Regions from separate parts of the Homo sapiens genome. Here regions 1, 3, 4, 5, 6 and 7 are each linked to region 2. The links come from fine-mapping of genetic effects on gene expression. A gene starts in region 2. Each other region holds a variant in brackets. All regions are shown on one strand. Distances are between the middles of the regions.

Region 1 (4,164 bases), 290 kb after region 2:
ACATATCCTCCCAGGGCAGCCAGGACATCCCACGGGGAGGCAAAGAGGGTCCTGTCCTGGGCTTCCTCCACACTCAGACCACTTCCTCACCTGCCCACCAAGCAGCAGTGTGCATGGTTAATGGAAATTGGCATCTCTTCTATCCATGTGAGGAACCACCAAGACCTACTAGCTAGGTTTACGATCCAGGTTCTAGATACCAGGGGTTAGGAGGGAAGGACCCCCAAGACCTACTAGCTAGGTCTACAATCCAGGTTGTAGATACTATGAGTTAGGAGGGAAGGCCCAGGAGTGCCATTCCCCAGGTTCAAATTCCAGCTCCAAGACTCACCCTGTGTGTGCCCTGGCATAACTCAAGGTGCCCTCAGCTTCCCCATCCTTAAATGGCAAGGTTTCGTACTTGCCTTTAGAGCTGCTTGTGGGGATTAAATGATACCTAGTTGCCAAGGGCTTTGCACCGGCCCTAGTATGCGGTAGTGCCAGTTACAGAGGAGGAAACAGAGGCTCAGGGAGATTGAGCACCTCGACTAAAGAGAGGAGTGGAATTTCAGTCCAGGAGGTCAGGCTGTCTTTCCGAGAGCCGACACCCACCAGCCTTTGGTGGGCTTGAGAACACGTGGGGCCTGCCATCCACGCTGCTGGCATGCATCAGGTGGTGTCAGGTGGGTCCTCGCACAGTGAATCCTGAGCAGAGGGCAGGGGGACGAGGGGGCGGCTGGAGCCCAGTTCGCTTTTGCGAAGCACTTCCTGAACTGCACATTCGGTTACCACAAAATGAGTCAAGGTCCCTTTTAAGTGGCTTGCTGAGCTTCCCTCTGATCTGGCACTGTCTCCCTGGGATGGCCGGCAGCAGGCTTCCCTGACGAGCTGTCAGGCCTGGCACCGGAGCCCCTTCCCTGGGCACCAGCTCTGCACGAGCACCCCTTCACTCTTCCTCATGACAATTCCATGAGGCAGGGGCTGGTCTTGTTTCCACTTTAAGTGGGGAAACTGAGGCTCAGAGAGGTTGGGTGAGTTGCCTTGGGTCACACAGCTTAGTCAGGTTCAGAGCTGCAACCTGAACTCTGGCCTGTCTGGTTCTTAGCTGTTTTGCTTGCTCTTCTGCCTGGCTCATGGCAGTGAGGAGACCCACGCTCACCTTCGCTGCCTGGGTCAAGTAGCTGCCTGGGACCTCTCTATGGACCCATTTGCAAATCAAGGATGGGGAAGTGAGGTTGTGGGGATGAACCATTAGAAGCAACTTCTCATGTCCCAGAAGGAAACAGGGGACTGTGCTTTCCAGGATGAAAATACAAGGGCCCCCTGATGGACTAGTGTCCTCCCTATGGATTGAGTCCCTCTAAGAAATGGGTTGCTCTCCCCACAAACAGGCTTAGCTTAAAGACCTTGTGTTTCCTGGGCAAGAGAGGCACCCACAAAAGGCCTTCACTAAAACCTGGCTTCAGGCCCAGGGCCCTGGTCCGGATGCAGAGGAGGCCTCAGCTGGGAAGGGTCCGTCCTCCTGGGGCTTGGGGGGTGGGGGTCATGCTCTCCTGGAAATGGGCTGCCCCAAGACCCACATGAGTCTTACCCCAGTGTCTCCTTTAGAGTCCTGGAGCAAGAAGGAGGGATTCCCAGTGATATCTGGTGAGTAAGAGA[GA/G]AAAGGAAGCGGGTACATCCAGAAACACAAGCACAGTCTGTGAACACCGTCAGACAAGAGGGCCTGAATGGCGCCTGTGGTGATTGGGTCTTTTTGTTTGCTTTTGTTTTTGTCATTGTTGTTTTGAGTCAGTTTAGGAGTTTTTTTTAGTAATGACTACTGGGAAACTCAGAGGGAAACACATACACACACACACACACACACACACACAAACACATGAAAGAACAACAATGCGGGGTGATGACCACGGCTCAACCAAACGACATTTTCATCATCCTGACACATCTTGTTGAAACGGAAACAGATCTGGGCCTAAGGTCCTCACATCATTTTTCCTGATTCTCTTTGTCTGTTTTTAAAAGTAACGTTCAATTAGAGAAATAACGCATAGCCCTCCTTGTAAAATACTACAACGTGATAAATAAGGCTCAAGAACTCCTTGGCTGCTGTCTGGACCGAGGGTCCCTCCCCAAGCCAGCCACTGTGCTCTATTTTCTGTGGGTCTTTGCAGTCTGGGTCGAACTTTTTAAGCATTTCATTGCTACTACTTAGCTTTTGAGAGTGGGTTCAGCGCTCGTGACTGAAGCATATGCTTAGAGAACAGTGTCCCTGAAGTCAAATCTCAAACTTTGCCTCAATGCCTCTTGCCTCAGAAGGGCCCAGAAAGGTCTGAATTGCCCTGAGAGTTTTCCTCCAGACAATAGCTCAGCCTTCTGTGCCCAGCCATGTTTGCAAAACTTTCTCACACACCCCTCAGCTAGTCCTTCACAGTCTAAGCCTAGGCTGCTGGGATACACATTTCTATTTTGCAGATAATGAACAGAAGTCTCCACAGAGTTAAGAGTCTTATACAAAACTACCTACCCTGGCTGGTTTTTCCACTATAGCAGGGACTCCTTTCCTCCAAGTCCCGCCTCCACACCGAGGTCTCAGGTGGCGAGGGCCTTCCAGGCATGAATGTCCCACACCCGTGCTCCTGTCAGAGTCCTCACACTCCCTGACCAAGCTGCCTAAGTTCCAGGAAGCTCTAGGCCTGTGTTCTCCCAGGGAGGGGGGCTTCCCATCTAGTCCCTCAAACCAGGAGCCCGGGGGTATTTGTGAGGTTCTGGGAGACTCTAGGAGACCATAAATACCAGACCTTTAAGCAAGCATGGTCAGCAGCTGGTGATAAAATTGAAGGAAAGAGACACAGCAGCCTGCATTTCAACCCTGCCCTCTCCACACCCTCCAAACTGAGTACCTGGGGTTGCAGGGAGGCAGGGCCACCAAAGTCCCCAGTGGGACCGCAGTGTGGCTCTGAGGACGGAGCTGGATATTGTAAGGTTGGCAGCAACTCAGGCCAGTACTCTCAAGTGGGAACAGTTGGGAAAACAGGTAGAAAGAAAAGACAGCATGAGAATCTCTAGGACGGGAGCCAGCGCAGTCTTCCCAAAGAATATCGTGCAGACATGCTCTGCACACAAACCTTCCCTTCCTAGAGATCCAGAATATCTAGGAAGATTCATGTTCATCAGCATTATGAAAGCCCTGAGAAGTCCTGCAGTCATGGAATAATATAATAATAACGATAATAATAGCCCAAGGTTTTCTAAACTTACTAGTCCAGAGAACTCTTTTCTAGCGAAATGCCTATTGCTGTCTCCCCATGGAGCACATGTTGTGACTGCTGGCCTGGCCCATCTGGGGTAAGGAGCGATGTTGGTCACAGTGCTTCTTAAGCAGCTGTGAACTTCCACAGCCTCACTGCAATGGCCCTGGCCCCCAATCTTACTTCTGATAGGTTAGACAGATGCAATGTCTAAAACCCTCAATTACTGATAACACTTTTAGTGATGACTTAGATCTCAAACTATGGGGTCTCAAACTATGGCCCGTAGGCCAAATCTGGCCCTCTGCCTGTTTTTAAAAATAAAGTTGTATTAAAACACACCTTGGGCCATTCCTCTATGTATTACCGGTGGCTGCTTCATGCTACAATGGCAGAGTTGAGCCGTTGTGATAGAGACCATGCAGCCCAGCAAAGCCTAAAATGTTTACTCTCTGGCCTTTAGAAAAAATGTTTGCTGAACCCTGGCTTAAACAGAAAATCAAAACTCACCTGAAGGACTGGTTCTGTAAAGTCTCAATAGCATGGGAAATTTAGATTTAAAATCTCTGCAATTTGGACCAATCCACGTTCTGCCGTGGTTGTGTTGTTGATGTAACGGGCCCAGACTACAGCTCAAGTGTAGACAAGGGTGTGTGTGTGTGTGTGTGTGTGTGTGTGTGTGTGTGTTCATGGAGAGACTGGGAATAGGAACAGGATGGGGAGGAAAGAGAAATGCTTTATGGCTTAGGAATATTGAATTCGGAGCCAGAGCAGGGGAAGTTGTGCCACCCTATAAGCCTCAGCTTTGGTTGTATGAGAAACCTGGAGATAATGTAGCTGATGGCACAGGGTTGTTGTGGGCAGAAAATGAGCTCCTGTGAGCAGAGCACCTCTGCTGTCTCTAGGAGACTCAGCAAGTCCTGGGGACTCCTCCGCA
Region 2 (4,153 bases):
CCGGGAGGACCTCCCGACGGCGCGGGAGAAGGCTGTAAGGGCTCTTGGCCCCCGACGCGGCCTGGGTCTCGGGGGACGCATGAACCCGCCACCTCTGGCCGGCTTCCTTTTAGTGCCCCAAATAGCAGCGCTTAGCCCGTTGCTTCCCCCGACTCTTGTTTTTCAAAGTGTTCACAGGGTCGCGAGAGCGAGCGACGCGGGGGCGGCGAGGCTGCAAGGCTGCACAGGAACAGACGACAAGAAATAGGGCTTTCTTCTGCGTGGTTCTTTTCCGGTCCCTGTCTGAGTCGCCCGACCCCGCGGGGAGCGCGGAGCATTGCGGCGTGCGGCGGGCTTCGGGCTCTCAGCCCGCGCAGCAAGTTGTGTTGCTTTTCCCCGGGTGCGACGCGGGACGGCCGCGAAGAGCAAAGTTCGTCCGCGGTAGGAACTTCGAGGCCCGGTTAGGACCGATCTCCGGCCTCCGAGTCTACTTAGCCGTGTCCACGCTCGTGCCTTTTCCCTCTTGCAGCGAAATAACTGGGCGGGGCCCGACGCGCGTCCTCCAGCGACTCCGGGAACCCAAGGCCTCCTTCACCTCGCTCAAAATTCACCCGAAAATGCGCTGAGACTTTGGCATGGGGCTGCGCTGTGTCCCACTGACGTTACAGAAGCGCTTATGAATTTAAAAACTGCTCCAGGCGGCCGGACGGCGGGACAACGCCTCCTCACTTGCTCCTCTACGGCAAGGCCCCTTCCTTCTCCCTGCCGGCTGCGGTGGTGTGTAGGGTGGTCCCTTTACAGAGTTTCCTTAATCCATCTAGCCTGACCTCACCTGCGGGATGTTCCATTTCCCGATCCACCTCCCACACCCCCGCTGCAGTTGTCTAGAAGCTGGGGCTGGGGAACTGAGGCGCGGGAGGAGCAGACAGGAGGGCCGGGGTTGGGGCGCCAGCCACGCGTTGGGAGAGCAGACCCGGGTGCAGACTCAGAGGACTGGAGAGGCGGCATGGAGTTTGGTCTCCTGGGAGGTAGAGTGAGGTGCTGCGGACTCCAGGGAGGAAAGGGATGGGTGGGGAGGCGGGAGGGGAGGAGGGACGGGGTATTTTGCGCTCCCGCACCGCGGCCCGAACTCAGCTGTTCTGCCTTCACTGGCCTCAGCCAGTCGAGGGAGCTCCTACGAGGTTATCTGCGAGCCCAGCAAATCTTGGGGGTCCTAGCCAAATGCAGTGCGCAACGTTCTCTCTCACTTGGAGGCCGCCATTCACCTCGTTTTTTTTTTTCCTAAAAGGATTTTTTTTTCTGAGTGCTTTTTTCATTTCCCTATTTTACCTGCTTTGCACATGCCTCCCGCCCTCACCCGGGAGGCGGCGAAGACGCCCACTGGGACCGCGCCTGGCCGTTTTCTGGGCGCGTCCTGCCCCCACGGCCTCTGTCTCTTAGGGCGACTGGGCGCGGAAGAAAAGCTGGAGAGCCCCTGCGGGGTGGCAGGAGGAGGGTGCCTGAGTCCCGCGAGAGGCCCGGGCGAGGAAGATGCGCAGCCTGCTGATCCGCGTCCCGCCCGGCGCCAGGGACCCTCAGAGGGAGGAGAGCTCAAAGACCTCGCCCCGCGCCTTCGCGAGGACCAACCCAGTCCCCGCGCCTGCCCCAGAGCGGCTTAGAAACTCAGGGCACAGTGAGAGCGCAGGGCGCCTCCCGAGGCTTCACACCGCCGGCCGGGCCAGCGGAGGCTGTGACCGGAGCGCCCCCTCTGTGCCGCGCACGCCGCGGCCGCCGCCGGGTTGGGGTAGGTGAGCGGGAGGCTAGGGTACACTTCGGGGTGGGGGATGGGCGCGCACATGGCCGCCAGCAGGCAGAGTTACTCCGGTAAACACGCCAGGGACGGCGGCGCGCGCGGGAGGCAACCCAGCGGGGCAACCCCCGCCTTTACCTGTCCGAGCCTGCACGCGCCGGCGGCCGCGGCGCCGAGGGGGGCGGAGCTTGCCAGCCCGCGCGCCGGGGCGGGACCTAGCGGGGGCGGGGTCCGCAGTGATTGGGCGTAGGAGCGGGGCCGCCAGCCAGAGCTGGGCTGCAGGGCCGCGCAGGTTTCACTTCGCTCCGCGCAGCCGCCTGGTCTGCAGTTTGTTGGAGCTCTGCGTCCAGCGCCGCTGCCGCTGCCGCCGCCGCCGCCGCCGCCGCCGCCGCCGCCGCCGCCGCCACTACCACCACTTGATTCTTGCAGCCACCCTGCGAACCCTGCCACACTGCGATCGCATCATCGCGGTATTCGGTTCGCTGCGTTCCCGCCGCCACCGCCTCGGCGCCCTTTCTTGGCCCTTGTTCCCCCAAATGTCTGACTCTGACTCTCGGACTGAGAAACGCAAGGTAAATACCTCCAAATCCCGGGGCGCGGGCCTGGCACCGAAGGAAGACTAGCGCTGGAGCCCGAACGGCACCACCTACTGCCCGCTTCCCGTGCACGTGCGAGCGGAGACGCTTGCATCGGCGCCGCTTGTCGCCGGCGGGAGGTGGGGATCCGTGTGGATCGGGTTCCCTCTCGGGCAGGTTCTCTTTAAAGAAAAGTCGTTCACGCGGAACCTGCAGGCTCTTGGCCGAAGTGCGGCTTGGGACGGGATGCTGCGCGCGGGCCTGGTGAAGGGTCGTAGGTCCGGGCAGGAGGAGAGGCAGCGCGTGCCTTTCGGCGCCGGCCCGGGAGCTGAGGACCTGCTCGTAGTATCGGGCTGTGCGCCCAGCTGGAAAGTCTCGCCGCCGGCTCCGGCGCCCTCAGAGTAGCGGCCGCGCAGTGTGAGGGTGTTTCGTGTCTTGGTTTTTTGGGGCGCGTGGGCCTGTTGCGGAGGATTTGCGGAACTGCGGTGGTGATTTAACTGACGAGACACGGCTTTTCCTTTTACTCATTCAGGCCAAGGTTTCGGGGCCACTGCTGCGTTCGCTTTCTCAAGCGTACCTGGGGCCCCTGCTTGCTCTGCAGGAGTCCTGCGGCCTGTGCCATCCGCACGATTCCCTGGCAGCGAGAAATCTAGGTCCTCCCCTGACCACCTGGACCGCGCAGGGGACTAGTCGCGGCCGGCAGAACCTGCTCGGTCCCTGGGCCGGGCTATCTTAGCGGCTCACGCATGCCCGAGCACACCCGACCCGGTTCGCGGTGCAGGCTGGCGGCGCCGTGCCCTCTGGGACCTGTTGCCCCAGGGTTGGCGCTGCTGGTGGAGGGCCCGACGGACGCCAGGGCGGAGGGTGTGAATTTACTCGATGGTCGCGGACGTGCGCGTCCGCGGCCAGGGGTGGCTCTTCGGCTTTGACTCGTGTCTGCGGCGCACCAGGAGAGAGAGGAAGTTGTTGGAGGAGAATAGTTGCCACAGCCAGGGCGGTGACGGCCGTTAGGGTCTGCCCCCGACGGGCCAAAACAAGGACAAGTGGCGAGGACTGGGCCTGGGGATGGCCCTGCGGGTCCGGGCGCGGCGCAAGTCCTGCTTTGTCTCCAGGTGACTGGCTGTCCAGGACGGCGGGAGCTGCTAAGGCTTGTGTCCGGAAGGAGCACAGGGATGGGCAGGGTGGCCGGGCCAGCCGGCCCTCAAATCCTCCGACGAAGCGGCAGCCGCCACGACCACGGCCAGAGCAGCGCTCGGAGGCGAGTTTGTCAACAATCGCCTCGCCTTTGGCGGCCTGACCCGTAGGCGCCGCCCCCACCGCGGCTGCCGATTGGCTGCGGCGCGGAGCGACCGCGCGCGGACCAATTGGGAACGCGGGCACCCGGCGCCAGCGGCGCGGGGAGGTCGGCGGTGCCGGCGGCGGCGGGCGCAGAGCGCGAGGGGAGGAGCGGGAGGAGGCGGAGGATGTTCCCGGCGGCTGCGGCCGGGGCAGCGCGGGCCAGAGGCGCGGCGTGCGGAGCCCTCGGCTGCCCGGCGGAGCGCGGCGGCGGGCTGGCGGGAAGGCGCGGGCTTTGCGCTGCGCCGGGGACTCTGAACCCGAGTCCCGGGCTTTGTCTCCTGCGCTGCTTTCGTGGTGACGGTCAGGGGGCGCCCGGTCGGCGAAGGGCGCGGGCCGGACGCCGCGGGGCTTGGTCCCTGGCCCGGACGCTGCGCTCTGAAGGGAAGGCGCGGACGTGAGTTTCGGTGTGATTGCCTTCTGAGGGGAGGGTCTGTGGGATGAAGGCGGCGCGGCGCGCACCGGTGTCGCCTAG
Region 3 (4,000 bases), 40 kb after region 2:
GGGTTGTTGTGGGGACTGAAAAGCATGGGCTAGGTTATTTCATTTAGTGGTGGCCATGGCAATTCTTCCATCCCCAAGCTTGGGCACACAAAGTCCAAAGGCCTGGAGTGCCCTAGGCAGCTTTTCAAAGGTTCGACTCCTCTCACTGTTGGAGAGTGAAGCTGAATCCAAAGCTGCATTCTATAGTTGTCTGCTGTTCAACCTGACCAGTTCCCTGGGGCCAGGGCCTCTATTGTTTTCCAAGCATCTGCTTCCCTGGACTGAGCAAGAGAGTGGTGTTCTGTGATTATTTTGGCATTAGAATGTCATTAAATTCCCTGACACTTAATTGGTCGTCCCAAGTGTAAATTGAAGATGCTTCTGCCCTGCACTTAATGTTCCTCGCTGCAGTGGCAGCTCCAGCCCCTGGCAAGGCAGCAGGAACCCCACGCTAGGGCATTCCTGTGGTACAGCTCCTCCCAGGTTGCCACCCAGATGAGCTTGTGCCATCTGGTGTCATGGGGACATGTGAAGAACTATTTAGGAATTCCCTGTTGAATGCTCGACACCGTCTCAAAGGGCATTGTTCATATCTTCAGAGAAAGACTGCTTAAGTCTATGCTGAGGAACTTGTAGACACATAATCCTATGCCTTTACACTTAGAGGGCACAGTCTGTGGGGGAGCAATCCTGCAACTTGGCATAATCTTTCCTTCTGGTTTATGATAAATACTTATCCACTACTGAGATTATCTTTACTGAACTGCTGGCCCCTTCTGCCTGTTGGCCTTGCTGCCTCTGCCCAGCTTCTCTCTCCACCTGCACTGCCCATTCTCCTCTTGTCCTTCCAAGAAATTCTCCTCTTCCTTTGGGGCTTGATGTGGGGATTCACCCTGGTGCCTTCCTGCCCTGGCTCCCCCACTTCCTCTCTGGCCAGTGGTTTTTTTCCCTCTCATTTTATTTGCCTCTGTATTGTCCTTACTTTATTATCTTGTTTACTGTTTTGTGCTGGCGACACAGCTATTACCATCAGACCTAGTGGGTACACAGACACGTGCCTTGAAGTCAGGCCCCCCACCTGATGCTGGTCAGCAACAGGGCCACTGGAGCCCCTTACCCTGAGAGGGGCAGGGGCTGTCAGGAACTGGTTCCTGGAGGGACACACAAGGTTGTGAATGTTGAAGGAGTCATCTTCTGGACACATGGGATGGCCACAAAAGGCAGTTACCTCCAGGTAACCCAGTCCTCATATAGCTCTTGATTTAGGCTATGGAGATTACAGTACCCAACTGGGTGGGGCCCTCCTCTTTGTGCACTTGTGATTGTGTGTATGTGTGTCTGCGTAGAGAAAGTGAGAGAGGAGAGAACTGTAGTATATGGTCACTTCAGTTGTAACTTACTAGCAAATTTGGTCTTTAAAAATAATCTCCTTCACCCAAATGAGTTGTTATACCTTTCTAAAGTATTTTTGCAATTTAGACTAAAACAGAGTTACCCAACTCTGTAAGAAGGATTGTTTTCACTTAAAGAGTGACAGACTGAGAGCATCAGTGAAAGTGTGTATTAGTCAGCTAGGGCTGCTGTGCAGAGTTCCAGAGACTGGGTGGCTCACACAACAGGAATTTATTTTTCTTAGTTCTGGAGGC[T/C]GGAAGTCTGTGATCATGGTGCAGACTTAGCCTCCAGACCTGTAGATGCTGTCATCCCCTGTGTCTTCACGTGGTCTCCCTCCGTGGGTTTCTGTGTCCTGATTGTCTCTTACCAGAACACCGTGGATTAGAGCCCACCCCACAGTGACCTCATTTTAACTTAATCACCTTATTGATGACCCTGTCTCCACTTACAGTCACAGCCTGAGGTCCGGGGGGTTAGGACTGCAACAGATGAATTGAGGGGACACAGTGTACAGTTCAGCCCATAAAGAGGAAGATACCCAGAAGTTTCAGGAGGGAGTGGAGCATCTTCCCTGATTGTATTTATTTTAATAGTTTTTTAAAAAACGCTTGTAATCAGGAAAGACAGTCTGTCTTTTTTATATTACCCAGTTTGGGAGTGGCAGAACTTAAATGCACTTTTGATTCACAGATGCCTCTTCCACCTGATTAAGAACCACTGTAGCAGACGCAGACTTATTGGACACTAGGCGGGAGGCCAGCTCTGCAGACAGCAGGTCTCAGGAAGACGGTCAAGGCATGGCTGCTGATGATCCGCTTATGGGTGTGTTTATTGTCTTAGCCCATGTTAGATGCGAGGAACCACTCACACTGCAAATGACAGCTCCTGGCTCAGTCTTAGTGTCATACTTGCCTTTAACTGGCAACTCCCCTGCAATACAGGGATTGTCATCTTTAGTCCTGACTTTCCAATTCCATCTTGGATGTGCTACCCTGGCCAGAAGCCACTGGGTGTGCCCTTACTTTGACCTTTCACCAGTAAATTCCATCTTAGGGGGCTTTCTCTAATTGCTTCAGACTCCCTCCTGACCCTTTATACCACCCCAAAACCAAAGGCCCTGGTTTAGGAGCTGAATTGTAGCAGCCGTTCCTCAGTATCTAGATCGCAGGGAGATTTCACTGGAGCTGGCTGAAGCTGTTGGCGCTTTGAGCAGCGTTGAGCCATCAGTCCTAGTTCTGCGTCTTTGCCCCACTGCAGCTTTTGGCCACTTGCCCCAGTTTAGTGTCACCAGGCCCCGACTATAAGCCACAGTAATTTTTATGGCTGCAGGTATTAGAGGGCAGCCAGTCTACAGAGGTAGGGGCTGCCCATCCTCCAGCTGTCTTTTGCAATACGGGCATACACTTCGAGCCAACAGCAGCTCCAGCCGGCCGTGCCAGCTGTCAAATGCTTTCTGGGCTGGCACGGCTCTTTGAATCCGTGGTAATGGCTTCCTCTGTTGAATGTCGTCCAAAAGCAATTGCTTGTCAGCTTAAAAGCGTGTGCCATGTTGTCATGCCCGCCGTCTGAGAGGGCAGGCATCCCCGCACACTTGCAGACTGGGATGCTGTAGCATCTTCTCATGAGTCAGGGATTGGGTGTAACTTTTGCCAAAATTTCCTGCATTTTCCCCACCCTCTCCAACATGTCTTTGAATACCCCATATCCTTTACATTTGAGATGAAAGTGGAACTCTAAAAACCTTGGAAAGATTCTCTTGTGAGGTGACTTCTACTTAAGCTTGGTCACAGCCTCCTGCTGTCCTCAAAGAGTGGGCAGGAGATTTCTTCCCTTGGACGCTGCCAGTGCTGGAATATGAAACTTACCAAGTGTCAGCAGTTGGGGTCTGTCCTTCACGTTGACCCAGCCCCCTCATTGGTGTCCTGATGATTGTGGACACCCAGTCAGCCCCATTTTCTGGCCACACCAAGCATGGCAATGACACCAGGTTGGCACAAAACAACTCTGCCTGGATTGATTACTTAGCCCATCATAGCGTACACTTTCTTCATTTTAGTAAGTTGTGGTTTTATTTTGAATAAGTCTCTTTCAACCTATTAATATTAGTCTACACTAAAATTAACCTTCCCCTAAATTATTCTCACACAGAGGCAGCAAAGTAATTTTGAAAGTTAAATCAAAACAAAGCAATCTTGTGTGTAAAACAGATAAAAATCACAGACTGTGGTTACAGAGTGCCTCTACAGGAATCGCTTACATAAAGCTGATTTCCTCCAATCTTGTTATGGAAGGAAAAGGGGAAATGCCCTGGCCTTATCACAATCCCATTCTGTCAAACAAGCGCGGCAGAGCTTGTGTAAACAGTGGAGCTGCAGCTGCGGCTGGTGTCTGTGGGGGCCATTCGGGGTCTGAGGGGACAGTTGTCTCAGCCTGATGCATGGCAGGTGGTTCCCGCGACGGTGTGTTGGAGGTATCCCCCACCCAATGAGAAGGGGGTTTGTGGAGAGACAGTCATGTAGCCCGGTCTCGTGTGGATTAGTCATTAAGAAATGTCCAGGGCAGATTTCAGACTTGAACAGTGAACCAGGTTGTAGCTCATGGCGTCGAGGTTGAGGTGTTGTGTTGCCGC
Region 4 (4,000 bases), 22 kb after region 2:
AAGGCAGCTTAAGTGGATGGAATCTGATTTTCTCTTAGGCACGTGCATCTGCGAAGGTGTCTGAGGTGAGCCAAGCTCGATAACCTGATTTGTTGAGTGAGTTACTTTTCTGTGGGATGTGTGGTGGAGAAAAGACTAGAAGTGTATTTTCTTGTTGATTTGTCTGTTATTTGGTCCCTTGAGAAAGGCATTAACCTGAAGTAGTCTATAGTGAATTCTGAATAGATACAATGTTAGTATATATGTGAGTTTACACCTCATTTTTGCTGATACTTGATCATAAATTCTACTAAATTAGTCAAAACAACAACTTAAGAAAAAGTTTGATACATAGCAGGAGTGCAATATTTGTTGATTTAAAGAGACTCTCATTAGCGTTTAATGCAATATACGAGTGCCACCAGTTCCTTCTCTTTTCACTTGGATTTCACCAGGGTGCTCATTTGAAGCTTAGAACTCTGTCCTCGGCAAAGAAAGCCTGGCATACACTGTACAAGGTGTTGACTCATCTTTGTGTTCCTCTGCTCCTCTAGTGTGAGGTGTGGAGTAGGAGGTTCCAGCAGGTGACCCAGCCCAGCCTTGGTCCTCCCATAGGCCTATTAACAACCCTGGGGCAAATGCCTTAGCCTGCCTGGAAATCTCAGTGTTAGGGCCATGGCCCTTCCGCAGTGGTCATAGCAGTGTAGGGAGTTGGTGCCTATGGGGAACTGGCCTACATTGAGTTAGAACAATCCACACGTATGTTTATTGCGGCATTATTCACAATAGCAAAGACTTGGAACCAACCCAAATGTCCAACAATGATAGACTGGATTAAGAAAATGTGGCACATATACACCATGGAATACTATGCAGCCATAAAAAATGATGAGTTCATGTCCTTTGTAGGGACATGGATGAAATTGGAAATCATCATTCTCAGTAAACTATTGCAAGAACAAAAAACCAAACACTGCATATTCTCACTCATAGGTGGGAATTGAACAATGAGATCACATGGACACAGGAAGGGGAATATCACACTCTGGGGACTGTTGTGGGGTGGGGGGAGGGGGGAGGGAGAGCATTGGGAGATATACCTAATGCTAGATGACGAGTTAGTGGGTGCAGCACACCAGCATGGCACATGTATACCTATGTAACTAACCTGCACATTGTGCACATGTACCCTAAAACTTAAAGTATATAAAAAATAATAATAATAATAATCCCAATTCTTGTGAGTTTTTTTTTTTTTTTGAGACGGAGTTTCGCTCTTGTCACCCAGGCTGGAGTGCAATGGTGCCATCTGAGCTCACTGCAATCTCCGCCTCCCAGGTTCACGCGATTCTCCTGCCTCAGCCTCCTGAGTAGCTGGGATTACAAGCAGGTGCCACCATGCCTGGTGAATTTTTGTATTTTTTTAGTAGAGACAGGTTTTCACCATGTTGGCCAGGCTGGTCTTGAACTCCTGACCTCAAGTGATGTGCCCACCTCAGCCTCCCAAAGTGCTAGGATTACAGGCGTGAGCCACTGCACCCGACCAGAACAATCCCAATTCTATCTGTATCACACAGTGTGTTTCTCATCTAGGAT[A/G]CAGACTCACTGGGCAGCAGCCGTGTCTGCCCTGGAAAGTGGGGGCATCAGGGAGGAGGAGGAATGTGTGAACCTAAACACATGGAAGACCTTCAAAAGCACCAGAACACAGTCTTTCAGCACAGAATTCTTTACATCCTTAACTTGCACTTGTGCTAATGAAGACTCTACCTCCTGTTCTTTTCCTTCTGTGACAAAACAAGTTATCTGTCTGGGAAGACATGGCACAATTTATTTATACAACATTTTTATGGCTTGCAGATGACTCCGCTGGATCCTCCCTCAGAATTGCCCTTCATAGGGAAGTTCAGTGGCCACTCAAGTGGTTAGCAAAATCAAGGTGAAAAGTTTTTCTTTTTATTCAAAATGGGATAAAAAGAAGCAGCTGCCTTTTGTGACTTTTAAGTGAGAAGCTTTCATTATGTCTTAGCCCTACAGTGTGTTATCAATAATCATATCTGTGTTAAATTGTACTTCACTTTGTATATCACCATTGTAAGTTTTAACCGTATACATTATAGGCTTTTTCCATTTTTATTTTAAAAACTGTTTAAGGTGTAGCTTTTTAAGGATTCTGTTTTTGCTCTTATTTTTTACCTGTGTCTTGGTCTTTCTTATCATGGAGGTGAAAACAGTAATACTGAAGACCTTAATGTGAGTTTAGGAGAAAAGATGTTAATCACCAGTTTCCTGCTACTGGTTTTAAATTTCATAGAGGAAGCCACACTTATTTTGTCATCAGAAATTCTTATATTTTTTGTTTAAATTCTCATCTCCCTCCCCTCTTGCCCAGATCTGGTTTTTTGGCTAGAAACAACTTACAGTAACTTCAAATTAAGCATTTTAATTCTAAGGAATGGTCTTAAGTGAACCAATGTATATAGAGTTTTATCTTTACTTTTAAAAGGTCTCTAAAGCATTTTTCTTCTTATGGGGAAATAAATTGGGTAGTTTACCTCGTCAGTAGAAAAAATATAGGGATTTGTGTCTTTGCACTAAAGTAATTTCAGGGTTGGTCTTCTTTTAGCTGTCCTTAGTTTTGGGATTATTTTTGTTTTTCAGAATAAAATGGCACAGGTCAGATACTTTTAATCCCCTGAAAGTAATCTAAAGCTATAGAAATGGAGCTGTGGCTGTCGCAGAGACTTACTAGGATGAAGGTTGGTGTAGAAAAACTAAGGAGTAGTAGCAGTATTCAGTGTCCCGTGTCTTTCCCCAGAAGAACACTGGCAGAACACCAGGGGCAGAACACTGTCACACACTATTCAGAGCAGCGATTTCAGGAGCACACCAAGGCGGGCCAGGTGGTCAAGGGGCTTCCCAGGGGATGTCATACAAGGCACATGGAAAGAACTGGTTTAGGACCAGGTTTGGCACAGGTTCACTGACAAAAAGTGGGGTGATGATTGAGAGGGATCATAGATTTCCTTTATAGTCCCAGGGGCAGAATCAAGATTGAAGTGGGGCTTAGAAGGGAACATTTCAATTCCCTACGAGGAATAGCATCGTAGCACTCAGTGTTCTTCAGCGAGGACAGCAGTGCCTTAGGAAATGTGCATCTGTCCCAGGAAGCGGGCACACAGGCTGGGAGTCTTAGAGGGCTCCTGCTCAGGTCTCCCACATGGTGCAAGATGCTGGGCTTCTGTCGTGACTCAGCTGGGGATGTCCTTGAGTATAGGGATCACAGCTCAGTCTGGGTTTGCTCCTGGCTTGTCCCCAGCTGCTAGTAAATATGTTAATATGTGTGTCGGGGACAGCTCTGGTGACATGGATAATTAGTTTTTCTGATGTTGAATGAGAAATGAGTAAAAAGGCATAACACATTAATCTTAATGTCTTTAGACTTGTATTTTTATTATAAGGGACAGATAATAGTGAATGAGGGAAAAAATCTCATGAACACTAGTTTCCAGACTTCTGTCCAACTTCACAGCCTTGGTTTACTGGCAGTTTCCAAATGGTCAGGCTGGAAATTGATGAAAGCTGTTTCTTTTGACCATGGCTCCATAAAGGCAATGGGCAGTGCACGTTGAAAGAGTAAGTATGAAAACACTGGCCTCATCTCATAAACTTTATTATTGATAGTATTTTATCCTAGCAGCTGTTTTTGAAGCACTGTCTTGAATTCATGTGACTGCCCAGGCTTTTGACACAAATGTGTTCCAGGGAGACAGATTGAGGAATCTTTGAGTACTAATGCTGTCATCGTATTTCTCATAGCTTTTGTTTTCATCCAGTGGCTCAGCGGAATTGATTGGGATTGCCAAAAAATAAAATGATACAAGTGAGAAATAGACCTGGAGGGAGGTGTGTGTGTGTGTTGTTGGTTACTTGCTTATTTTATTTCTGAGAACCGTCAGAGTTGAGGATTTCAAACATGATTCTGATAGCATTTACCGCAAACGCTGATGGCAGTTGCTCTCCT
Region 5 (4,164 bases), 340 kb after region 2:
AAAACCTAGTGGCCAAGTCAGGCCACGGAGTTCGTTGAGCCTCTGCTGCCCATGGGCCTCCCCGTTCCTGGCATCCTGGGTCAATGGATGGATTCTGACTGTGGAGGCCCCCAGTTCAGCCTCTTTTCATACCCCTGGGGGTTATCTGCAGTGCTGCAGCCCCTTGGTGGGAGCCTCCTTCTTGCACTGGGGACACCCTGGTCCCCCTAAAATCCCACATACCCTGTGGAACTCCAGGGGGGGGATTCTGAATTCCTTAGACACCAGCTCGTTCACTCTCATTTTACAGGTGAAGGGAGCTACTCTCTGTCCAAGCAGATCAGGGCCTCCATGGGCTTGCCTCCCAGGCAGAATTCCAATTTCCTGGTCCATCAGAGGTCCTCACCTGCTCCTCTAGGAGAGAACCCTGATATAAAAGGGAGGAAAGATTCCCCTCCATGTTTCCAGTGCTCATTGGTTATCACTAGCCACAGTCAAGCCTTCTTATGACTCCCAGTCCCATCTGACTTGCTCAGAGCTCTGGAGCCTAACATCCCAGTCTTCCTGAAACACTGCTTAAGCCATGGGATTTTCCTGCTCGAGGACCCACAGAGCTCCCTACTGGCTCCAACACAGAGTTGACATTCTTTGCCCAGGCTGAGAAAGACCTCTGTGGTTTGCTCCTACCCTAAGTATGCAACATTTCCCTCTTCTCATGAATCTCTTTGTGCTTTTATTCAACAAAAATATGTTGAGCACTGGATTATTAGTTTGCTTGAGCTACTATAACAAAGTATTAGAGACTGACAACAGAAATGTATTGTCTCACAGCTCTGATGGCTGGAAGTCTGAGACCAAGTTGTTGGCAGGGTGGTTTCTTCTGAGGCCTCCCTCTCTCCTTGGCTTGTAGATGACCACCTACTTGCTATGTTGTCACGTGGGTCTTCCCTCTGTGTATGTCTATATCCTAATCTCCTTTTTTTTTCTTTTTCTTTTATTATACTTTAAGTTCTAGGGTACATGTGCACAATGTGCAGGTTTGTTACATATGTATACGTGTGCCATGTTGGTGTGCTCTTAATCTCCTTTTATAAGGACACCAGTCATATTGAATTAGAGGCCACCCATATGACCTCATTTTACCTTAATTACCTCTTCAGAGACCCTTTCTCCAAATACGGTCACATTCCAAGGTACTGGAGTTGGGGTGGCACCATACAAATTTGGGATGGGACACAATTCAGCCCTTAACAAGTCCCAATATGATGCCAGGGAATGGGGAAGGGAGGAGAAAAAGGGACATAGAAGGGGACAGAGATGGATAAAACATGGCCTCTGCCCTCAGCAGATGAAACTCTACTGTTCACACAGGAGGACGGCGTGATTTTCTCCTTGCCCACCCCAGCCCCAGCTCCTGCCTCTGTTGGGCAGCCTCTGATGCTTCACTTCCTCCTCTATCTAATCAGTCTTTCAAGGCACAGCCTCATTCCCTTTCTCAGGAGCACCCCCCTACTGGCTTACACTCCCTGAGTCCCTCCTGGACTTCCCTCAAGCGTATCACCTCCTCCCTGTGCTATCCTGACCACCCTGTGAACTTCTCCATGGAGCAGCTACCTGGATGTCTAGTGCAAGGCTGGGCATGGTAGACATCAAGCCAATATTTCCTTCTCATGGGATAAAACATGTTTCTCCTTTCTGCTTTCTGTCTGATAAAAGCCAGCAAACGGCACTGGGGGTGTCTGGTTCCTCCACCACTTGTCTGCGTCTTTCAGATAAATATTACCTATTTCATCGTGTTCTGAAATGCAAAACCTTTCTAGTATCAGTAAGTGAAATCCCCAATCAGCATACCATGATGAAATATTCTTCTAAGTCTCATATTTTTACTCACTTTACGCCCAGAGTTA[T/C]GTGTGTGAGAGGTGACATTTTACTGTGTGGGACAGGAATGCCATCCTCACTGATGTTAACCATGTCACACTGGAATGACATCTCAGAAGACGAGAAATAACCAGGGGCCTTTAAAACTTAATGCATCTTGAGGCCGGGCACAGTGGCTCACGCCTGTAATCCCAGCACTTTGGGAGACCGAGGTGGGTGGATCACTTGAGGCCAGGAGTTCAAGACCAGACTGACCGATATGGTAAAACCCCATCTCTACTAAAAATACAAAAATTAGCCAGGCGTGGTGGTACACGCCTGTAGTCCCAGCTATTCGGGAGGCTGAGGCACGAGAATCGCTTGAACCCGAGAGGCGGAGGTTGCAGTGAGCTGAGATTGCACCACTGCACTCCAGCCTGGGCAACCGAGCAAGACTCTTATCTCAAAAAAAAAAAAAAAAAACTTAACGTATCTTGAAATGTAAACAAATTATCTTGTTTTACACTTTTCTTTTACTGTCATCAGCAATAAATGCCACCTGATATGTGTATTCAACACTGTGCCCCAGCCCTTTCCTGCTGAGCTAAACATCAGCTCTTAACTTTGAACATGCCCTAGACTCACACAGACAGACCCTCAGAGGTCTTCTCTGTGCTCCCAGAGTGCTTTGTTCAGAGTCTGGTTTAGTGGCATGGTAATTAAGAGTGTGCACATTGGGAGCTAACTGTTTGACTTTAAGTCTACCTGCTGTGTGACTTTGGACAAGTTACATAACCTCTCTGGGCCTCATTTTTCCTCAAAGCCACCAAAAAAGTCACTGAAGGGCATTGGGGGCATCTGGTTCCCAATGTAAGGATGAAATAAGATAATTCAGATAATTAACCTGGCCCAGAAGCTGGAACTTTTTGGCCCCCAGGAAACACGAGTGTTAATATTCACATTACCTTTCCCAACTATCTCCCCTTCCAAACTGTGAACTTCCCCAGGACAAGGGCACTATTCCTTAGGTGCCTGGGACATAATAATCACACAGCTAATGTTTGTGGGAAAAAAAAACACATGCAATGACTCAATTCTACTTTTAAAACTGGCTTTTCCTCCTTATTTTAAAATGTAACTTGCTCACCTTAGGGCCTTAAAAAAATATGTAACAAGAAGAGTAACACAGACCAATTAAAACTTTTAAGTTAACTAAATGAAACCCCCCAGCTCCTGTCTTTGGGCTTCATCCATAGGTTTTCAGGGCAAACACCCCACAAATGCCAAACAGATTTGCACATGTGCTAATTATCTACTTTTCACTGTTTCCCATAAAATAAATACTTTCAAATGCAAAGTTGACTGTGAAAAGTATATTAATTATAGAGAATGAAAAGCAGTACCATGATGTTCATCCTGAGGCCAAATGAACAATGATCAAAACTTCTAACTGAAAATTCCTGGAGAACACCTTCATCGGCAGCATATGCCATCTCCTTGCAGCTCTCCCAGCCAGCACTAAAGCCAGCCTCCAGGCTGTGAGGCTCACCTTAGCCTGAGTCACCATCCCTCACACTTCCTGAGAGTAGTTATGTTTTTATTATCCGGTAATTAAAGATAAAACATAGTATAAATTGAATTATGCATGTAAAAGCATTTGTATTATTTATATCACAAGAGTCCCAATATCATAGAATACATAAATGCTAGAGCCACTTGTGATTTTTGTTATTTACAAAGGCTGATAGGCAGGTGGATTTCAGCATCCCTGCCAACATGGTGGGATCTGAGGCTGCCAGGGTGGGAACCACTCATCAAGGAGAACATTCCCTGTGTCTACCAGCAAAGATCCAGGCCAACTGCTGGCTGAAGAGAGAGCAAAAAGAAACAGGCTATGACGGGCTTCTGCTCTTACAACCCTATAAGGAGTATATATTTTACACTGGAAAATCTGATCCTTAGAGCAAGCCAGTCCTGTATCAGCATATAGTCCTGGTATTGTCCAGAAAAAATAAATCATCTTGCTACTTAGAGACATTAGCTAGCCAAACGCAGTAGAATCTACAAGATCACATAGTATTCAAATTATTATTAACCAAAAATGCCTTGTAGTACTTTAGGGGTACAGAGCAAGCAGAGAAAAGGTGGTGGTCCATGAAGTGCCCTTTGTAACATTCAGAGCTGAGCTGTCCCCTGTAACTGGGCACCATCCCTGCACTGCTCCTTGGGTGTTGGGCTCTGAAACACTCCAGCTGACTCAGAAAATGATTCTCGGTGGGGGATGGAAATCAGGAGCTCTTTATTTTTGATTTTTTTATTTTTTTTGAG
Region 6 (4,164 bases), 250 kb after region 2:
TGGGGGTGATGTCTCATTTTAGTTTTTATTTGCTTTTCTCTAATCATTAGTGATGCCAGTCATCTTTTCACATGCTTTTTGGCCATTTATTAATATATATCATCTTTGTAGAAATATCTATCTAAGTCCTTTGCCCATTTTCTAATCAGGTTGTTGTTGCTGAGTTATAGGAGTTCTTTATCTTCCCACTCCCTGGACCTTTTTTTTTTGTTTGCAACTGAAAAACTAAAGGCTCAAAGAGGCAGACGGCCTGCTGAAGCCTTTGCCCAGGGGCTGCTTAGCAGCAGCAGCAGGGAAAAACTAACCCTGGCTGACCCTAGCTTAGGTAGCAACTACAGAGCTCTCAGCCCATTCTCCCAGCCACACAGCCTCAGAGCAAATACTGTCCATCAAATGCACACTCTGTGTTCACAGCCTCATGTGCCAAATTGCTGTTGGAAAACCAATGGCAAACACTGGTTGCAGAGAACACAGAAGCATGTAATATCCACTTTAATGGTGGTTCCACTTTCATATTTTTTCTCCCCTCTAAGGAAAGGGAGAGAGAAAAACCTGTTCGTGGAAAAAATATATTTAAATGGATCAGTGCCAGGGAACCATTGGCACATCTGTTCTTAACAGGTTTCAGCTGAAACTACTGAAAATATACATAGATCTGTTTATGTGGAACCAGTTAAATATGATAAGATTACAACTTGGAGGGTAACTATGGATTTGGTGGTGGAAAAAAAAAATCCCCTCCACACTTGGTCTCCGCAAGCACTCATAACATTTTACCACAGATGTGTTGAGGGAATCAGATTTGCTGCAAATGGAAAAGACCTGAATTATTTGAGATTAGCTACAAACAAACTCAAGATGTCCCCACCGCCTTTCTGCAGCACATAATTCCTGCCTCGTCTCTAATCTGGGCCCAGTCCTTTGTTATCAGAGAGGAGACTGCAGCCAGGGAATCACCCATTTCTGAGTGAGTCTGTCTTCACTCCTCCAACTAGCCATTTAGGAGGAAGACAGTGTGCACACTGCTTACACAGAGAATGCACAGTTGTCTTCCTTAAAGTTTTCAGCATCCCAAAGGACTCCATGTTCTCTTGAGGTTGTGCAGGCAGCAAGGAGGGAGTGTTGGCTGAGGGGCTCCCAATGGAGGCCCTGTGCTCCTTCTGGAGTCTTTTTCTATGTAGTACTCACAACCACCCTATGAGGTTGCATTGTCACCCCCCTTACAGAGATGAGCAAATTGAGGCTCCAGGCTCTAGGATAATTTGTCCAGGGCCATGCCGATAATTAGATGCTCTAAAGGAAGAAAGATGTTTCCTCCCATCTAAATATGCCTTAACAGGAGCATCACTTGAGCCCAGGAGTTCAAGGCTGCAGTGAGTTATGATTGTGCCACTGCACTCCAGCCTGGGCAACAGAGCAAGACCCTTCCTATATTAACAATAAATAAATAATACGTGAATAAGCCTTGAGGCAAGGTCATGACTCAAATATCCACAGAGTCTAGCAGGAGCAGGAGTGAGGGGCCCTAGGCAGCTAATATGGGGCCATAGCAGACTGATACTGGGGAAAATGCAGACCTTGTGGCCCAGATCTTCTGGTTTTTGTA[T/C]AGAGAATGAGAAATCACTAGATTTTTGTATGATGGCTCAAATATTGAAAACAAACACAAAGCACAGCCCCTGCTATAGTTTGCAATCTCCACTGTGGGTCCTTTGCTGCCCCCAGCGGTGGGAGGAAGGGGCTGCACTGGCTTTGAACCCCCTCTTGTTGGGGACTGAGCATCTGACCATCAGGATCCTTGCCTCCTGGTGCAGGAGGTGTCTGTCACAGGCCACAGGCACCGCAGCTCAGCACCCTCATCCCAGTGTCCCTTCTAAACTTCATTAGACTCCTCAACTCTGGCACACTGTGAAATGTATATTCATCTATAAACATTTCTCTAATAATTTATCTCAAAAAAGTGACATCAGTCTCTAAAATGCACCACGGGACACAGGAATGGCAGTCTCATGGCCTCAAAAACAATCAGCCAAAATTGACATCTGACAACACCTCCTCCCGCACCCCCAGGGGCCGGGCTGTGATCCGTAAGGTTTTCATTCTTGCTGGACCCCACGCTGTGAAAATGCACCTATTTTTATTCATCAAAATCATTTTTTTAAAATAAGCAGCCCAGCGGAAAACAATTGTGAATGGCAGCTTCATTACATTTGGAGTTTTGGAACAAAGACAATATTGCTCACACTCTATGACCTGTTCAATGATACTGAAGTTTAATTAAAAAAATGTTAACGTACTAAACTGACAACAAGGAAGGTGCAACATTAGGGTTTCTTTGAAAAATCAGGAAAGCAAAATATGCTTGACGGATTGTCTCAGTTATCAATTCAATGTGATTTAACATTTGTCTTTTGGTTTTTATTTGAAACTTTCAGTTTTGAACTAGTAGGGCAATAATCCAAGCTGTATGGAACCAAAGTGGGGAGGTTGGTGGGACTCGGAGGGAAAGTTGAATAGAGGGACCCCTATTGGCCCTTTAGAGGGCTCAAATATCATCCTGGGCAAAGTTGTTTCTTAAAGGTCCCACTAGAATTGGCTACTGTTCCGGCTCCCCTAGAAAAGCCCTTGAAAGGGTATTTTCTGAGCAAGAAACATGGTGATGCTTCCACCACGTGACTGGTTTAAGACAGTCATTCTAGTAGACCTGATAAGTGAAAGCCAATTATTTTGAAGCAATAGAGTAAGTGGTGTGTGGGCAGCCACTGCATATTTAACCCAGCCTGAGATTCATTAATTATGAAAGACTTTTCTTCTGAGATGATGCGATAATAGAATACGAAAATTTAAGTGCTGAAAGTATGTCAATGCATTGATTTTAAAGAAGGTGATCTAAAGCAGCAAAAAGTGATCCACATGCTCTCTGGATAGTCTCTAGGACATGTCATGTCAGTTCATGTCTTAAAGCCCCATAAAAGAGAGCCATTTTCCCCCAACCACAGAGCCCTGAGATCTGGCCAGAGGTCCCATGGTGGAAGACTCGCTCCCACTGTAGCCTGTGAAAGAGGAAAGCCACTGGCCCTCATCTTGGGGACCCGTGAAGACCCACCTCCCACTTGGAGCAAGTGAGGGAACTGCAGGGTATTGGGTGAGGCCTGCTATACTTCCTACAGGCTTTGGGTCTTGGAGGTAATGGTACCAGCCTCATAGTGTGGGAGTTGGAGCGTCTGCTTCCACCCTGAGAAAATAGGTATGGGAGCAGGTCACAAGCTAGGACAGTGCCTCGACCTCCCTGAGGAAAAGACCAGAATGTATTCAGAGTCCAGGGTCCAAACCAGGGTTCTGGAGTGGCAAATTTAAGGCCTTGAGGCTGGACTGGACCAGTGCAGAGTCAGGGAGCCACAGCTGTGACCTCAGGGAGGTGCTTGTCATGCACAGGGAGGAGGCTGCATTCTGTTCTCAGAGTGACAGGAAGCCACTGTTGAGTTCCAAGGGGGAGAAGGACATGGCTCAATGTGCCTTTCCCAAAGATCTTGCCGGGTCTCTCTGGAGTAGGAGTCTGGACAGGTAAGAGTCTGGACTGTGGGCCAAGTGGGAGACATGGGATGGGAGACAACAGGATGGACTCTTGAGACATTTCACAGATAGAGTCAGCAAGGCACAGGGAGGCACTGGGTGAGGAAGGTGAGGGCAGGGTCCATGGATAAATTTCACAGATAGAGCCAGCAAGGCACAGGGGGGCACTGGGTGAGGGAGGTGAGGGCAGGGTCCATGGATAAGGCACCTAAAACCCCTGGTTTCCCATTTAGAGAAAGAATCCAATAATTCCTACCCGTCTGAGCTGTTGTGAGGACAGAGAATGGTGCATGCCATGAGTGGCTCACAACAGGGCTCCAAGGAGTGAGGGTCTGGCTGTGCTCCTGTTACCTCCTTTTGTCATCACAAGCACAGATGATGGACATCTGTCTCTAGCTATGTTACTTCTGACCCCCCAGCCCCAGCAAAGCAGGAAGTGGGGCCTGGGTGGAGAGGGGTGACAAGGCGGGTTTGAATTGATCTTTCTGAGAAATCATGTGCAACTTCACAAGCAAAACAGTTACGCAATAAACTTCCAGGTTCTTAAAACCATGCTGAGGGTTACAAAAAGAAAGTTAACGGGATGCTGATGTG
Region 7 (4,164 bases), 310 kb after region 2:
CCAGATGAAGCCTGACGTTTCTCTCAAATGTCAGTCTGCCCACACTGACTCTACAGCAATCTGGAGAGGTATGAGAAGCAGCAAGACAAGCGTGGCTGAGTTATGAGAGAGTCAAGCCCAACACACATTTAAACATGTCAGATGAGCTGTGTGGACGTGCCAGGGTTCCCTCAAACACTATTCGATATCCTTTCAATCAGCGTTTAAAGATAGCTAATAAGCAAACAATTCTGTTTTCTTTAGTTTTGCTTTTAATGAAGGACAAGGGATTAAGACACACAGAGACTGGCCAGACAAATGGGAAACCGACCAGACCAGCCCATGACCAAAATATCACAGGCAGACCACCCGCAAATGCAGAGGCCTCAGAGTCCACAGTGGGCAGTTGGAACCAGGCCCCAGGGAATCTTTCAGCTGCATTCCGGCTGTGATCGGCGGGCAACAGGTAGAGGTGCTGGAGGGGGATGAGTCGTGATTTTCAGTGTCTGTCATATTCGATCAAGTGTGTCATAGAGCTTCCTGTTTCATCTCCCAGTTATTCTGAAACAAAAACATGCATGAAAAACACAGGTCACTGCCAACCACACTGACAGTCGCTCTAGTACATGGAAACTGAAAAGGGAAAGACATATCATGAATGCCACAATAAGCCAGAGAATCAAATTTATCAGCATCTATTCAAATATTGGCAAGCAACAAACATTGCTGGCGGCAATGGTGGTGCGGGACATGGGGTGTCCACATAAACAGAATTCAGAAGAGACTGAAAAGGCAGATGTTCCCAAAAGCCTGCTGCTTTGTTTGGGGCCAGCCTGTGTGTTTATTGAAAAGTTGATTCAGTTCTGACTTCCTGGTCAGGGTCTGACTCCTGATGGGCCCTGAGGCTCTTCCCCTACATGCCCCTGTTGACTTGGATGAAGAGTCACACAAGGACTTACAGGATGGCACAGGTGTTCGCCCAGGTGGTGCCCTGCACTCCCCTCTCCAAAGGCCCAAAGAGACCCAATGAGAGATCCCCGTGGAATTCCAGCCCAATGAGGTCCTGAGACTCCCCGGGAGACATGGCCTCCCAGGTGCATCAAATAATCACAATACACCTGGGCCTAGCAGCCTCGGTGAGGTAGAGGGAAGGGTGGATAAGAAGTGGGGCCCCTGACCAAGCAAAGGCCCTGAGGACAGCACAGGACTGACAGCAGCTCCAGAAAGACTGTGATTCTGTTAATAACTGCTCTGCCGCTTGAGACCAGCATGGTCTGGCTCACTGTTTGCAGAAAATCATTCTCAGTCTCCCAAACAAGTGAAAGGATACTTCCAAAGACAGACAGAGGGACGGTAGAATCAGAAATACAGATGGCACCATCTTCCCAAAGTCCATACTGTAGCCCCACAAAACCAACTTCATGCTTAAATCTGCTGCTCAGACACACTTTGGGGAGAAAGCAGTTTTTCCAGGAGTGAGCTGGAGACAGCACTTCCATGGGAGGGAGGTCAAATCCAAGACTACCCGCTATTTCCAGCCATATTCACTATGGATGAAGAAGGGATGGCTCTACCCATGACCGTGCAAAGCTTCCTTGGGAACCCTGCTGTCCCTTCCACATGCAACCTGTCCAAGATGCAACCCTCAGTTCACCATGAAAACCCACTGGCCCTGCCGCTCCCCATTTCCTTTGGTTAATATTAGGCACAAATTTTTCTGTAAAATGAGATGAAGGCATGTGATTTTGGAAAAGCTTCATCCTTCCTCTTGAGATTCATTCACAAGATACAGTAGCACACAAAATACCCAGAGAAGTTAAGAAATAAGAAAGCTGTTTAAATTATTGTGCACTTCCCAAACATATATAGGGCATAACATTTTTTGCACACTGGCCTTTGCTGGCAGGGCTCTGCTGAGTGGTGTTAGGAAATGTGGCCGAAGGCAGGCTGCCCAGCCTGCAGGGCCTGGCGGAGCTCTCCTCCTCCTAGGGTCTCTTGCAGTGCTGCAGGCCAGGGAATAAAGCTTCTCCTGACCCCGTAGCCCTGGCTGCCAGGACATGTGGTGATTATGACAGTCTCTATTTATCTTTTGAAACTCTGTATTGTTTCCCCCCACCCCCAGTATCTTTCCCAATGTCTTGTACAAGTGAGTTAACGGATCCATATAAACTCCTACAGTCTTATCTGTTTTTTCCTTAAAGGCCTCATTGGCTAGTGACAGTGAAATACCGAGCTTCCTGAGCCTTGG[C/T]GAACCTGGCCCCATGATTCCTACACATTCTGGGAAGAACACTGCCCAGATGAATCTGTTGGGAAAGCCAGCTTCCCGTTTTGAGTCCTATGAGCTAGCATTTTCTAATGTGGCTTAAAGTCCAGCATCTGGGCCCAGGATTTCATACGCAGTGTCTTCCTGGGTGGGCAAAGAGAAACAGGAACTAAGTAATGCATCAGTGGCCTGTAGGGGTGGAAGGGGAAACCTGGTTTCTTTAGTTTCATCACTGAAATAGAGAGGTGGTTTACCAACCCGTGCCCCTCACCAGTTACCCCCACTTTTGAGTGCAATGAAAAACCAAAATGTAATAGCCCAGGAGGGCTACAGTATGGAACACCCAACCATGTGGACCTTGGGCCAAAGTCACAGAGTGAGAGGTGGCCGGCCCTTACGGATCATCCAACCAACCCTTCACCTTGCAGGTGAAGAAAGCAAGGCTCACCGAAAAAGGAAGTTGGCAACCTTCCCAAGGTCACTCTGGATGGGACACAGCTGGGACCAGGACCTGGGTCTCTCCTACCTCTCCTACCTTTGGCTTCTGGCCAAAGCTGAGAAGACCCTGAATTCCAGTTCTCCACTGAAAGGCCTTGTCTGGGAAGTTTTGCATGGATGAATCAACTCCATGTTGGCCTGGCTGTCTAGTTATCACTGAATAAACCCACGACAGTTCATCTGAGAACTAAAAGTTTTGCCCCTAATTCAGGGCCGATCACACACATGGCTTCCTAGATGCCAGTGTACACTGGGAGTGGGTGGAGACCACCAGCGCCACTCCGGTGTTGAGGCAACCCTGAAGAAGCATCTAGTCACAGACAGGGCCACTCTTACTCTTTGGCTTGGCTGACCTGCTGTTCCTGCAGGTGTCTAATATTGATGAGCCGCCAGGTAGGTCTCCCCACTGTGGGTACAAAACCTCACTTCCCCCCAGATCTGAGAGATGGCCTCAGGGTCACACACATCACCCTGAATAGAAGCCCTCATCAGGGGCCCCAAATGCAGCTCAGGCAACCTTCAGGAAGCTCCCCAGCTAGCTCCCAAATCATGCTCTTTCTCTTCCCGATAACAGACAGAAGGCTGCTGGCATGGTAAACTGACAAAGGGAGAGAAGCAGTGGCACAGATGCATACCCCCAGTCCCACCCCCAAGGCAGGCTGTTTTGCCCCTGAAGTTGAACCATCCAAGCCTCTACTTTCTGTGCAGTAAGTCTCAAGGTAGGAGGAAGTGAAGACCACAAGCTTCGATTTGCTGTGACATCCAAGGAACTGCCAGTACCTCACTGCTGAGAGCCCAAGCCAGAGCTTCCAGCCAGCCTCATGCAAAAACACACTTGAGCTTCCTCTGCCCCATTGGCAGCACCGAGGTCTTCCTCAATGCATAGAAAAGGGACGAGTGAGGAACTCACACCCTGTCCATTCTTGACTCACACCAGATTCTAACAGTATAGGAAGCCAACTTTTTGAGATTTCAAAAGAATTGCCAAGGAGGATGGAGCCTGCTCAGTAACTACCAAACTGTTCAGCTCTCAAGAGACCACTGTTTTTATTTTTCAGAATATTAAAACCTAGACCGCACACTCAGGAAATGTATATTGCTTATCACAGACTAATTTTAGGGAGATATGAGATGGGTTCTTTGTATAAATCAGACTCGTGTGCTGCTAGAGCTGTCAGGGCAGGGGAGCCAGGCAGCAGCACTTGAGTCCCCCTGCCCTTGTCTCTGACAGAGGCTCCCGCGTCTAGAGCTTCAGCCACGTATCTCTGAGCAGACTTAGCACCTTTTCAAGGGGACCCCCGCTGAGAAGCAGTTTCTGCAAAGTGCTCCACACGTCATTACAGACCTACACTTGGTCAGGAAGATTCTGTGTCTTTGAGTGGGGACTTTCAATACCCTCGTCAGCAGAGTGTGACAGTGCCAGG

Evidence for each region.
Region 1: its variant is fine-mapped to the expression of BCL2L11 in whole blood (TOPMed, PIP above 0.99).
Region 3: its variant is fine-mapped to the expression of BCL2L11 in cerebellum (GTEx, PIP above 0.99).
Region 4: its variant is fine-mapped to the expression of BCL2L11 in whole blood (TOPMed, PIP above 0.99).
Region 5: its variant is fine-mapped to the expression of BCL2L11 in whole blood (TOPMed, PIP 0.98).
Region 6: its variant is fine-mapped to the expression of BCL2L11 in whole blood (TOPMed, PIP 0.92).
Region 7: its variant is fine-mapped to the expression of BCL2L11 in whole blood (TOPMed, PIP above 0.99).

Annotation. Positions count from the first base shown.
Region 1 is chr2:111,411,556-111,415,719 of GRCh38, forward strand. All of the region lies in intron 1 of MIR4435-2HG (MIR4435-2 host gene), which reads right to left. Among named protein-coding and RNA genes, the nearest start is that of SOCAR, 78 kb to the right of the region's middle. The variant GA/G (reference allele first, on the strand shown) is at 1,639.
Region 2 is chr2:111,118,849-111,123,001 of GRCh38, forward strand. It overlaps BCL2L11 (BCL2 like 11), which reads left to right and starts at 2,066. Exons shown (of 4, transcript NM_138621.5): 1 at 2,066-2,340. RefSeq lists enhancers at 1,271-1,350, 2,501-2,620 and silencers at 1,631-2,170, 2,504-2,798, 3,591-4,150.
Region 3 is chr2:111,159,358-111,163,357 of GRCh38, forward strand. All of the region lies in intron 3 of BCL2L11 (BCL2 like 11), which reads left to right. Among named protein-coding and RNA genes, the nearest start is that of BCL2L11, 40 kb to the left of the region's middle. The variant T/C (reference allele first, on the strand shown) is at 1,626.
Region 4 is chr2:111,140,477-111,144,476 of GRCh38, forward strand. All of the region lies in intron 2 of BCL2L11 (BCL2 like 11), which reads left to right. Among named protein-coding and RNA genes, the nearest start is that of BCL2L11, 22 kb to the left of the region's middle. The variant A/G (reference allele first, on the strand shown) is at 1,576.
Region 5 is chr2:111,459,376-111,463,539 of GRCh38, forward strand. All of the region lies in intron 1 of MIR4435-2HG (MIR4435-2 host gene), which reads right to left. Among named protein-coding and RNA genes, the nearest start is that of SOCAR, 30 kb to the right of the region's middle. The variant T/C (reference allele first, on the strand shown) is at 1,887.
Region 6 is chr2:111,371,520-111,375,683 of GRCh38, forward strand. All of the region lies in intron 1 of MIR4435-2HG (MIR4435-2 host gene), which reads right to left. Among named protein-coding and RNA genes, the nearest start is that of MIR4435-2, 53 kb to the left of the region's middle. The variant T/C (reference allele first, on the strand shown) is at 1,607.
Region 7 is chr2:111,429,081-111,433,244 of GRCh38, forward strand. The region is part of intron 1 of MIR4435-2HG (MIR4435-2 host gene); the gene reads right to left. Among named protein-coding and RNA genes, the nearest start is that of SOCAR, 60 kb to the right of the region's middle. The variant C/T (reference allele first, on the strand shown) is at 2,228.